Linked DNA regions of Homo sapiens. The protein of the gene in region 1 interacts with the protein of each later gene in a pairwise test. Each region holds a gene or a part of one and is shown on either strand. Other genes may lie near its edges.

Region 1 (5,263 bases):
AGTGCAGTGGTGCGATCTCGGCTCACTGCAAGCTCCGCCTCCCAGGTTCACGCCATTCTCCTGCCTCAGCCTCCCGAGTAGCTGGAACTACAGGTGCCCACCACCACGCCCAGCTAATTTTTTTTTTTTTTGTATTTTTAGTAGAGACAGGGTTTCACCATGTTAGCCAGGATGGTCTCGATCTCCTGACCTTGTGATCTGCCTGCCTCAGGGTCCCAAAGTGCTGGGATTACAGGCGTAAGCCACTGCGCCCAGCCAAGAGGGCAAACCCTTAACCTCACCCAAGTGGCTCCAGAATGGAAGGCTGGCCAGAAAGGCATCTAGCGAGTGCCCAAGAAATACTGGATGAATGAATTCAATAAATGCATGCCTGGCCAGAAATCTCTCTCCCATGGGCCTCAGTGCCCGCAATTCCATCACTACGACTATGCTTCTGGTATCACCACCACCACCGCCCACAGCACTTCCCATCCCTGGGCTCAGTCAATGATCAGAACTGCCAAGCCTGCAAGGGGAACATGATCACTCCATTTTACAGAGGAGAAAACAGGCTGAGAGGAAGGAAGTTAGGAACCAGAACCCAGACCTGACTGTATCACTCTAGGCTGCCTGCACAGCCTGCTGCATTTGGAAAATGCAGGTGTCTCTGGGAAGGGTTGCACATCTGACATCATTGTCATTTACACCTGCCGGAAAGGGCGTCTCAGTTGCTGAAGGTCACGATACTGAGCTAATGGGATAAGGGGGCATGACTGGAACACTGGGGGTAAGGAGAACGCAGGTGGGGTGGGTGCCAGGAGAGGACGATGGGTAGGAAAAGGGAAGTGGAGTGGGGGTTGGAAGATAGACCTTCAGCACTTCTAGTTTTTTCTGCAGCATCAGCAGCTTGAGAGGGAAGAGCTGGTTCTGCCCTAGAGAAGCTGTGTGACCTCTGGGAGCCTTTGCCCTTTCTAATTTTTTTTTTTTTTTTTGAGATGGAGTCTTGCTCTGTCGCCAGGCTGGAGTGCAGTGGTACAATCCCGGCTCACTGCAACCTCTGCCTCCCGGGTTCAAGCAATTCTCCTGCCTCAGCCTCCCGAGTAGCTGGGATTACAGGTGTGCGCCGCTACGCCCAGCTAATTTTTGTACTTTTAATAGAGACGGGGTTTCACCATGTTGGCCAGGATGGTCTTGATCTTTTGACCTTGTGATCCGCCCGCCTCGGCCTCCCAAAGTGCTGGGATTACAGGCGTGAGCCACCGCGCCCGGCCGTCTTTGCCTTTGCCCTTCCTAGACCCACTGGTGCCCTGAGCTCTGTGTGCTTGGACAACTTCCTATCTGTGCACTTGGGCTCAGACAGAGGGAGGCTGTTATTCAGGCAGGATCGGGGCCCTCTGTACCTGCAGCCCCCACAAAGAATCTTGTGCAGCCCTCCACGGGAGGTGGGGAGCAGGTGGATGCTAATTGAACTTTTAAATAGAATCAGACTTTGAAGTCCCCTGCAGGCCCCCAAGGCACAGAGGCGGCCTCCTGGTCTTAGGCCACCTGGGTGTCTACGGCCCAGACAGGTCACAAGATCCCAGATGCCTGGGCCAGGTGGTGGCTCTCCCCACTGCCTCCTCTATCCATCCCCAGCCTCTAAAGGGACATCCTGTATGTGGATGAAGGAGAAGAAAGGCTAGTTCACCAGGCCCCTGCGTGCGCCAGGCTCTTGTAATGCCTTACACACTTTCTTATTGCATCCTCTCAACAGCTGATGACACGGGAGCTCGGAAGGTGAAGTTGCTCCTCCAGAGTCGCTCAGCTGGGACATGGCAGAGCTGGATTTGAATCCAGGCTAGGCAGCTCTTGCCTCTTCTGGCGCCTTGCTGAGGGAGGCCCTGCCCCAGCCTCAATGACTGTTGGGGGAAGGGGACTAGTGGACCAGGCTTGGCCATGCCAGGCCAGCTTGTGGTTCACCAGGGCCTTAGGCTCCTGCTTGGGGCTGGTGGCTCCTGGGAGGCCCCCTTCTCTTCAGGGACTTTTTTGTTTCACGTCCTTGTGTCCAGGCCCGGAGGAGGAGAGGGAGGGAAGGACCAAAGGGAGGTCAGGTCAAGCCCGGGGAAAGTGCCCCCTGTTGTCTTCCTCCAGCAGGACTGAGGCCCAGGGAAGAATAGTCAGCGGGGTCTGGGGTGTTGAGGGACAGTACCCCGCAAGATGCCATTAGCTGCGGTTTGGGGGCTGTCGGGCGACTGTGTGTGTGTTGGGAGCAACCACAGAAAAGGCTGATGGCCGGGAGCAGGGGTCGCTGACATGGAACTGCCTGAGACTTCTGGCTGGATTGTTTCCCCTCCCTCAAGTCCTCCTTCCAGGCCTGACGGACTCAGCAGGGTTTTTAAGGACAAAGCTGTCGGCGGCTCCCCACCTGTCTGACTGGCTGGTTCCTCTGTCTGCCCTGGGCTCTTTCACTGCTCTGGTGGGCCTGCGTGTTCCTGGACCCTCACGTGGGGCCTGCGCCCGGGGCCGCCTCTGGCGGGGTGCTGCTGGGGCTTTCTCCTTCAGAGGCAGGAGGTGTGGCTGGGTCCTCAAGGGCCCCTGGGGTAGGATGCGAGGATGGGGTTGGGGAAGCTTCATCACAGGGACTGGGCACAGAACTGGCAGCAGGTGCAGGGGTCTGGACGTTAGTGTCTGCCTGTGGCTGGGCCACAGAATCTGACTGTGGCTGGGCCATGAGGTTCAGCTGTGGCTGGGCTGTGGGATCCGACTGTGGCTGGGCCGTAGGGTTCAGCTGTGGCTGAGCTGTGGGATCCGATCGTGGCTGGAGTGTGGGGTTCACCTGAGGCTGGGCCACAGGATCCATCTGTGACTGGGCCTCTGCCATCGGCTCTGGCAGAGTTGGACCCTCAGAATCTAGCTGGGTCTGTGGCTCAGTGGGCGTGAAGCTGCCCGGCCGCTCCTCGCAGAGAGCTGCCGCGAAGGACGAGAGCACGGAGCGCAGCAGGGTCCGGAGGTCGGCACTGGCCATGAGGCAGAGGAAGGGGCTGAGGCAGCTGTTGAGTAGGATCAGGTAGTCGGAGTAGACCAGGGCCTCCCAGAGCAGGTAGCCAGAGTAGACGTCCCACAGGAAGGCCAGGTAGAGCAGCTGGGCCAGCTGGTAGGGCAGCCTCAGGACCACATAGGCTGACAGAATGGTCCTGGCCACACGGGCGAAGCCCCGGCAGGCTGCGGGCTGCTGTTGGCGGTGGCAGGTGCGACAGGCTGTGGCCTGGGTGAGCACGTGGCAGACGAGCAGCAGGAGGAAAGGCAGGAAGCCCCCCAGGACCTCCAGCATCCTCAGCGACAGCTCCTCGCTGTCCCAGAAGTCCAGGCAGATGACCAGGTCGTACCACCAGACGGCAGCCTCGGGGAAGACCAGCCAGGGCACGCTGAAGAGTGTGGCCAGCACCCAGACACCGGCGCAGACCCAGAGGGGCAGGCGGACTGGGCGGTGCCCAGGGTACCAGTGTGGGCACAGCGCCAGCAGGCAGCGGTCGAGGCTGAGGGCGGCCAGCAGGAAGAGGCCGGAGGAGTAGGACACGCCCCATAGGAAGTAGTAGAAGCGGCAGGCAGCTGTCCCCAGCGGCCAGTGTCCCCCATGCCGGATCTCTAGGATCTGGAAGGCCGCTGCTGCCAGGAACAAGAAGTCAGAGAGGGCCAGGCTGAGCAGGAGCAGCGCCAGACGCGTGCCAGCTCCATGCCGGGCCTGGGAGCCGGCCAGCCACGCCATCAACCCATTGGCTGGCAGCCCAAGGAGCAGCAGGGCCACCAGGAAGACCGTGTCCCAGCCACCTTGGGGGTAGGAGTCCTCATCATCAAGCTCTGTGCGGGGCCTGTGGCCAGTGGCACCCAGGTCAGCTTCCATGGTAGTGTCCATTTGGGGTCCCCAGAGTCCTGCTGGACACGGAGTGGGTGCCTGGTGAATCAATGATGGTGTGAATGACCGAGTATGGGAGAGACGGTGCTGTGCATCTCCAGGCAAGTCACCATCCCTCCCTGCGCCATTGTCATCACCTTTTGAGTAATTATCCTATGCCAAGGACTTGAAGTGGATGACCTCATGGAGTCCTCATACAATCTACTTTACAGGCGAGGACAGGAAGGTTCAGAGAATCAGTGAAGGTAGGAAGGGAGGTGCCAGGGCTCAACCCAGACTTTTCTTTTCTTTTCTTTTTTTTTTTTTGAGAGACAGGGCCTTGCTCTATTGCCCAGGATGAGTGCAGTGGCACAGTCCCTGCAGCTTCCACCTCCTGGGTTCCAGCGACCCTCCCATCTCAGCCTCCCTAGTAGCTGGGACTACAGGTGTGCACCCACTACTTTTTAAATTTTTAGTAGAAACAAGGTCTCACTGTGTTGCCCAGGCTGGTCTTGAACTCGTGAGCTCAAGTGATCCTCCTACCTTGGCCTCCTGAAATGTTGAGATTACAGGCATGAGACACTGTCCAGACAGACTTAATCTTCTGCCATGTAGAATCCCAATGGGTCCGGATAGACTAACCCGGAGGCTTTCAAACATTGTTAAAGGTATGGAATTTTGTCTGTAAGTAAAGTATTCTAAGGCCGGGCACGGTGGCTCACACCTGTAATCCCAGCACTTTGGGAGGATCACCTGAGGTTGGGAGTTCGAGACCAGCCTGACCAACATGGAGAAACCCCATCTCTACTAAAAATACAAAATTGGCTGGCCGTGGTGGCGCATGCCTGTAATCCCAGCTACTCAGGAGAATCGCTTGAACCCGGGAGGCAGAGGTTGTGGTGAGCCAAGATCGTGCCATCGCACTCCAGCCTGAGTAACAAGAGCAAAACTCTGTCTCAAAAAAAAAAAAAAAAAAAGTATTCTAGTGGAACTCCTATATGGACTAAAAGGGGGTGCTCAAATTAAGGGAGGGAAGAGTACCCCTACCCCCCAGGGTTCCAGGGAACACAGTTTGAAGACCGTTTGGTCCGCTCATCACAAGGCCCCTTTATGCCTGCTCCTCTGGGGTTCGAGTGTTTAGGATTCCAAGAAGGGAGGGCTCTGGTTCCCATGGGCCCAGGGGACCCGAAGGTAGGGAGTCTGGGGCAGTGGGAACCCCCTCCCCTCCAGCGAGTGTCACTCATGGGCTCAGGATGAGGTCTCTGAGCCTCAGGACCCCACAGCCTGGGGTCAGGAGGGCCATCCTAGGAGCCCCTGGTGCCTCTCCAGCATCTTCCACCCCACCGCGGCCCTCTCCCGCTTCCCACAGCTCAGGCAGGAGGTGACCCCTGTTTGTCTCCTGGAGCTGCTAAA
Region 2 (3,914 bases), 3.7 Mb from region 1:
AACCAGGATTTCTCATTTTGAGGAATGCCTGTGTTTTCCTGTATTTTTTGAGGAAAAATGTATATGTTACTCTGAGTCTTAAGATGTGACTGTCTCTCATATACACTTGCCATGTCCCATGATTCTGTCTTACAGCTGAACTGCTCATTTTCAGTGTCCCGATTGTCTATGAGAAGTACAAGGTAAGCATTTATCTGTTCCAAATCAAATGTGCCAGTTGATGTATGACTAGTTGTAGTTCATTTCTGAGACATTGAATGTTCAGAGCAGTCTTTTTATAACTATTTCTACAATCTAATTTTGTGAGTCAAGTGCCTATAAGAAACTGGTGGCAGTAGTTTCCTCCAAGGAGAGAAACTGGATATTTAGGAGAGAGATGACTAGGAAAGAGAAACTTCCTTTTTATACTTGTGTGCCTTTCGAGTTTTTAATCATGTAGATGTATTTTCTATGCAAAAGTAATAAGTTGAAAAAATGCTTAGGCCAGGGGTGGTGGCTTGTGCCTGTAATCCCAGCACTTTGGGATGCTGAAGCGGGAGAATCCCTTGAGCCCAGGAGCTCAAGACCAGCCTGGGCAACCTGGCAAAACCTTGTCTCTAAAAAAAAATAGCCGGATGCAGTGGCCTGCACCTGTAGTCTAAGATAGGAGAATCTACTTGAGCCTGGGAGACAGAGGTTGCAGTGAGCCGAGATCATGTCATTGCACTCCAGCCTGGGTGATGGGAGTGAAACCCTCTCTCAAAAAGGCCAGGAGCAGTGGCTCATGCCTATAATCCTAACACTTTGGGGGGCCGAGGCAGGCAGATCACTTGAGGTCAGGAGTTCGAGACCAGCCTGGCCAACATGGTAAAACTTCATCTCTACTAAAAATATAAAAATTAGCCCAGTGTGGGGCCAGGCACGGTGGCTCACGCCTGTAATCCCAGCACTTTGGGAGGCCGAGGCGGGCAGATCACGAGGTCAGGAGATCGAGACCATCCTGGCTAACACGGTGAAACCCCATCTCTACTAAAAATACAAAAAATTAGTCGGGTGTGGTGGCAGGCGCCTGTGGTCCCAGTTGCTCAGGAGGCTGAGGCAGGAGAATTGCTTGAACCTGGGAGGTGGAGGTTGCAGTGAGCCGAGATTGCACCACTGCACTCCAACCTGGATGACAGAGCAAGACTCCATCTCAAAAAAAAAAAAAAAAAAACGCTTAGATGGGAGATTGAGACCACGGTGAAACCCCGTCTCTACTAAAAATACAAAAAATTAGCCAGGCATGGTGGCGGGCGCCTGTAGTCCCAGCTACTCAGAGAGGCTGAGGCAGGAGAATGGCATGAACCTGGGAGGTGGAGCTTGCAGTGAGCCGAGATCGCGCCACTGCATTCCAGCCTGGGCGACAGGGAGACTCTGTCTCAAAAAAAAAAAAAAAAAAATGCTTAGATGAATAAAAGCCGGGTGTCTAAAAGGAAACTTTAAACTCTAGGTTATTCAGGTAATCCATCAGTGTGATGAGGTGTTTGCATTGTTGGATGATGTGTACCAAGTATACTAGATGCCATGAGATTATTCTTTATGGATTAAGTCATCCATCAAGAGACTTTTTGGCTTTTTGGTATTAAGTGAATTAGTGTTACACAAGAGCCATAACATATTTATGATGACAGAAAATAGATTAGACACACAGTTTCTAGTCATTGGAAACTGTTATATACTCCAGTGTCTCTAAAGAAAATACTTACCAAGTAAGACTTAACCTCTGCAAAAGATGAGTGATTTTTTCACTTTAACAAAGTGTGGGGTGTTTATGGTGTAATTTGGATTCTAAAACCAGAGGTTTTAAAAATACTTTTAAGGCTAGGTGTGGTGGCTCATGTCTGTAATCCCAGCACTTTGGGAGGCGGAGGCAGGTGGATTGCCTGAGGATGGGAGTTCAAGACCAGCCTGACCAACATGAAGAAACCCTGTCTCTGTCTCTATTAAAAATACAAAATTAGCCAGGCATGGTGGCGCATGCCTGTAATCCCAGCTACTTAGGAGGCTGAGGCAGGAGAATTGCTTAAACCCGGGAGGTGGAGGTTTCGGTGAGCCGAGATCACACCATTGCACTCCAGCCTGGACAACAAGAACAAAATTCCATCTCAAAAAAAAAAAAAAAAAAAAAAAAAAGGCTGGGCACAGTGGCTCATGCCTGTAATCCCAGCACTTTGGGAGGCCGAGGTGGGTGGATCACGAGGTCAGGAGGTCGAGACCATCCTGGCTAACACGGTGAAACCCCGTCTCTACTAAAAATATAAAAAATTAGCCAGGCGTGGTGGCGGGCGCCCGTAGTCCCAGCTACTCGGGAGGCTGAGGCAGGAGAATGGCGTGAACCCGGGAGGTGGAGCTTGCAGTGAGCCAAGATAGCGCCACTGCACTCCACCCTGGGCGAGAGCGAGGCTCCGTCTCAAAAAAAAAAAAAACTTTTAAAAACTGGGTGTTTTCATTTTCTACACTGGTCAGTCGTGTTTAAAAAATGGTTAAACTAGACAAAAGAGCCGTGCCTTCAGGAAAATTGGTGATCTGTATGTTACCACAACTGAATTTATTTTCCTTCCTTAAAGACCCAGATTGATCACTATGTTGGCATCGCCCGAGATCAGACCAAGTCAATTGTTGAAAAGTAAGTACATTTAGAGACCACATCATCATGAGGTATGCTTCCTTCCCCCCAATTATCTTTAGTCCCTTGTACAAAATGCAGATGCCAAGGAAAGTAATTTTCATTTTGATAAAAACCTTAGTTAATAGTTTCATTTTACTAAAAATTATTATAGCTGCTTCTATAAAAAGGAAAAAAAATCCTTTATATCTTTTTCTGGCCCTGCCTTCTGGACCTTTGTAGGCCAGGCATTTTGACTCACATCTGTAATGCCAGTGCTTTGGGAGGCCGAGACAGGAGGATTGCTTGATCCCAGGAGTTCAAGACCAGCCTGGGCAACATAGCTAGGCCTTGTCTCTACTAAGAATAAAAAATTAGCTGTGCATGGTAACACGTGCCTTTAGTCCCAGCTACTGGAGAGGCTGAGACAAGAGGATCAATGGGAAAAAAAAGATCAGTGGAATTTTTTGGAGACAGGGTCTTGCTTTGTCACCCAGGCTGAAGTGCAGTCTCGACCTCCTGGGCTCAGGTGATCCTCCCACCTCAGCTTCTCCAGTAGCAAGGACCATAGGCTACTCTGCCTTTTTGAACTGGCTTTTAAATGTTCTTCATTACAGGCTGGGCACGGTGGCTCACACCTGTAATCCCAACACTTTGGGAGGCCAAGGCCGGTGGATCACGAGGTCAGGAGTTCGAGACCAGCCTGGCCAACATAGTGAAACCCCATCTCTACTAAAAATACAAAAATTAGCCAGGTGTGGTGGCATGCAACTTTAGTCCCAGCTACTCAGGAGGCTGAGGAGGGAGAATTGCTTGAACCTGGGAGGCGAGGTTGCAGTGAGCAGAGACCATGCCATTGCACTCCAGCCTGGGTGACAGTGAGACTCCGTCTCAAAAAAAAACCAAAAAGTTATTGGTTGCTTCCCCACCTTCATTTATTTTCACATGTATTCATTTAAGCCAAACGTATCCCTCTCAGAAACAAAAGTTCTAGTAAATAAGTAACTTAAGGATCAAAGTTGTCTTTTCTAAGATTGCCAAATCTCTGTTCCCATTTTTTTAAACCAATTAATAAATCAGGAAATAAAATATTGACAAACATCTTTATGACTCCCTATATCAAAGAGTTGTTTTCTTCTTTTTACTTTTTTTCCCCATACCTAGAGGACAGTATTTTTTTTCTTTTTTCTTTTTTCTTTCTTTTTTGTTTTGCTTTCTAGAGACAGGGTCTCACTCTGTCACCCAGGTTGAAGTGCAGTGGCACAAGCTGAAAGCTCACTGCAGCCTTGAC

The links.
Region 2: the proteins of GPR152 (region 1) and RTN3 interact in binary tests that used the Homo sapiens proteins (3 or more experiments, as listed by UniProt).

The regions. Positions count from the first base shown.
Region 1 is NC_000011.10:67,448,854-67,454,116, forward strand, and holds GPR152 (probable G-protein coupled receptor 152), read right to left. Parts: upstream 3,877-5,263; 5' UTR 3,872-3,876; coding exon 2,459-3,871; 3' UTR 2,448-2,458; downstream 1-2,447. UniProt on the Homo sapiens protein: Orphan receptor.
Region 2 is NC_000011.10:63,753,527-63,757,440, forward strand, and holds part of RTN3 (reticulon-3), read left to right. Parts: intron 1-135; coding exon 136-182; intron 183-2,585; coding exon 2,586-2,644; intron 2,645-3,914. UniProt on the Homo sapiens protein: May be involved in membrane trafficking in the early secretory pathway. Inhibits BACE1 activity and amyloid precursor protein processing. May induce caspase-8 cascade and apoptosis.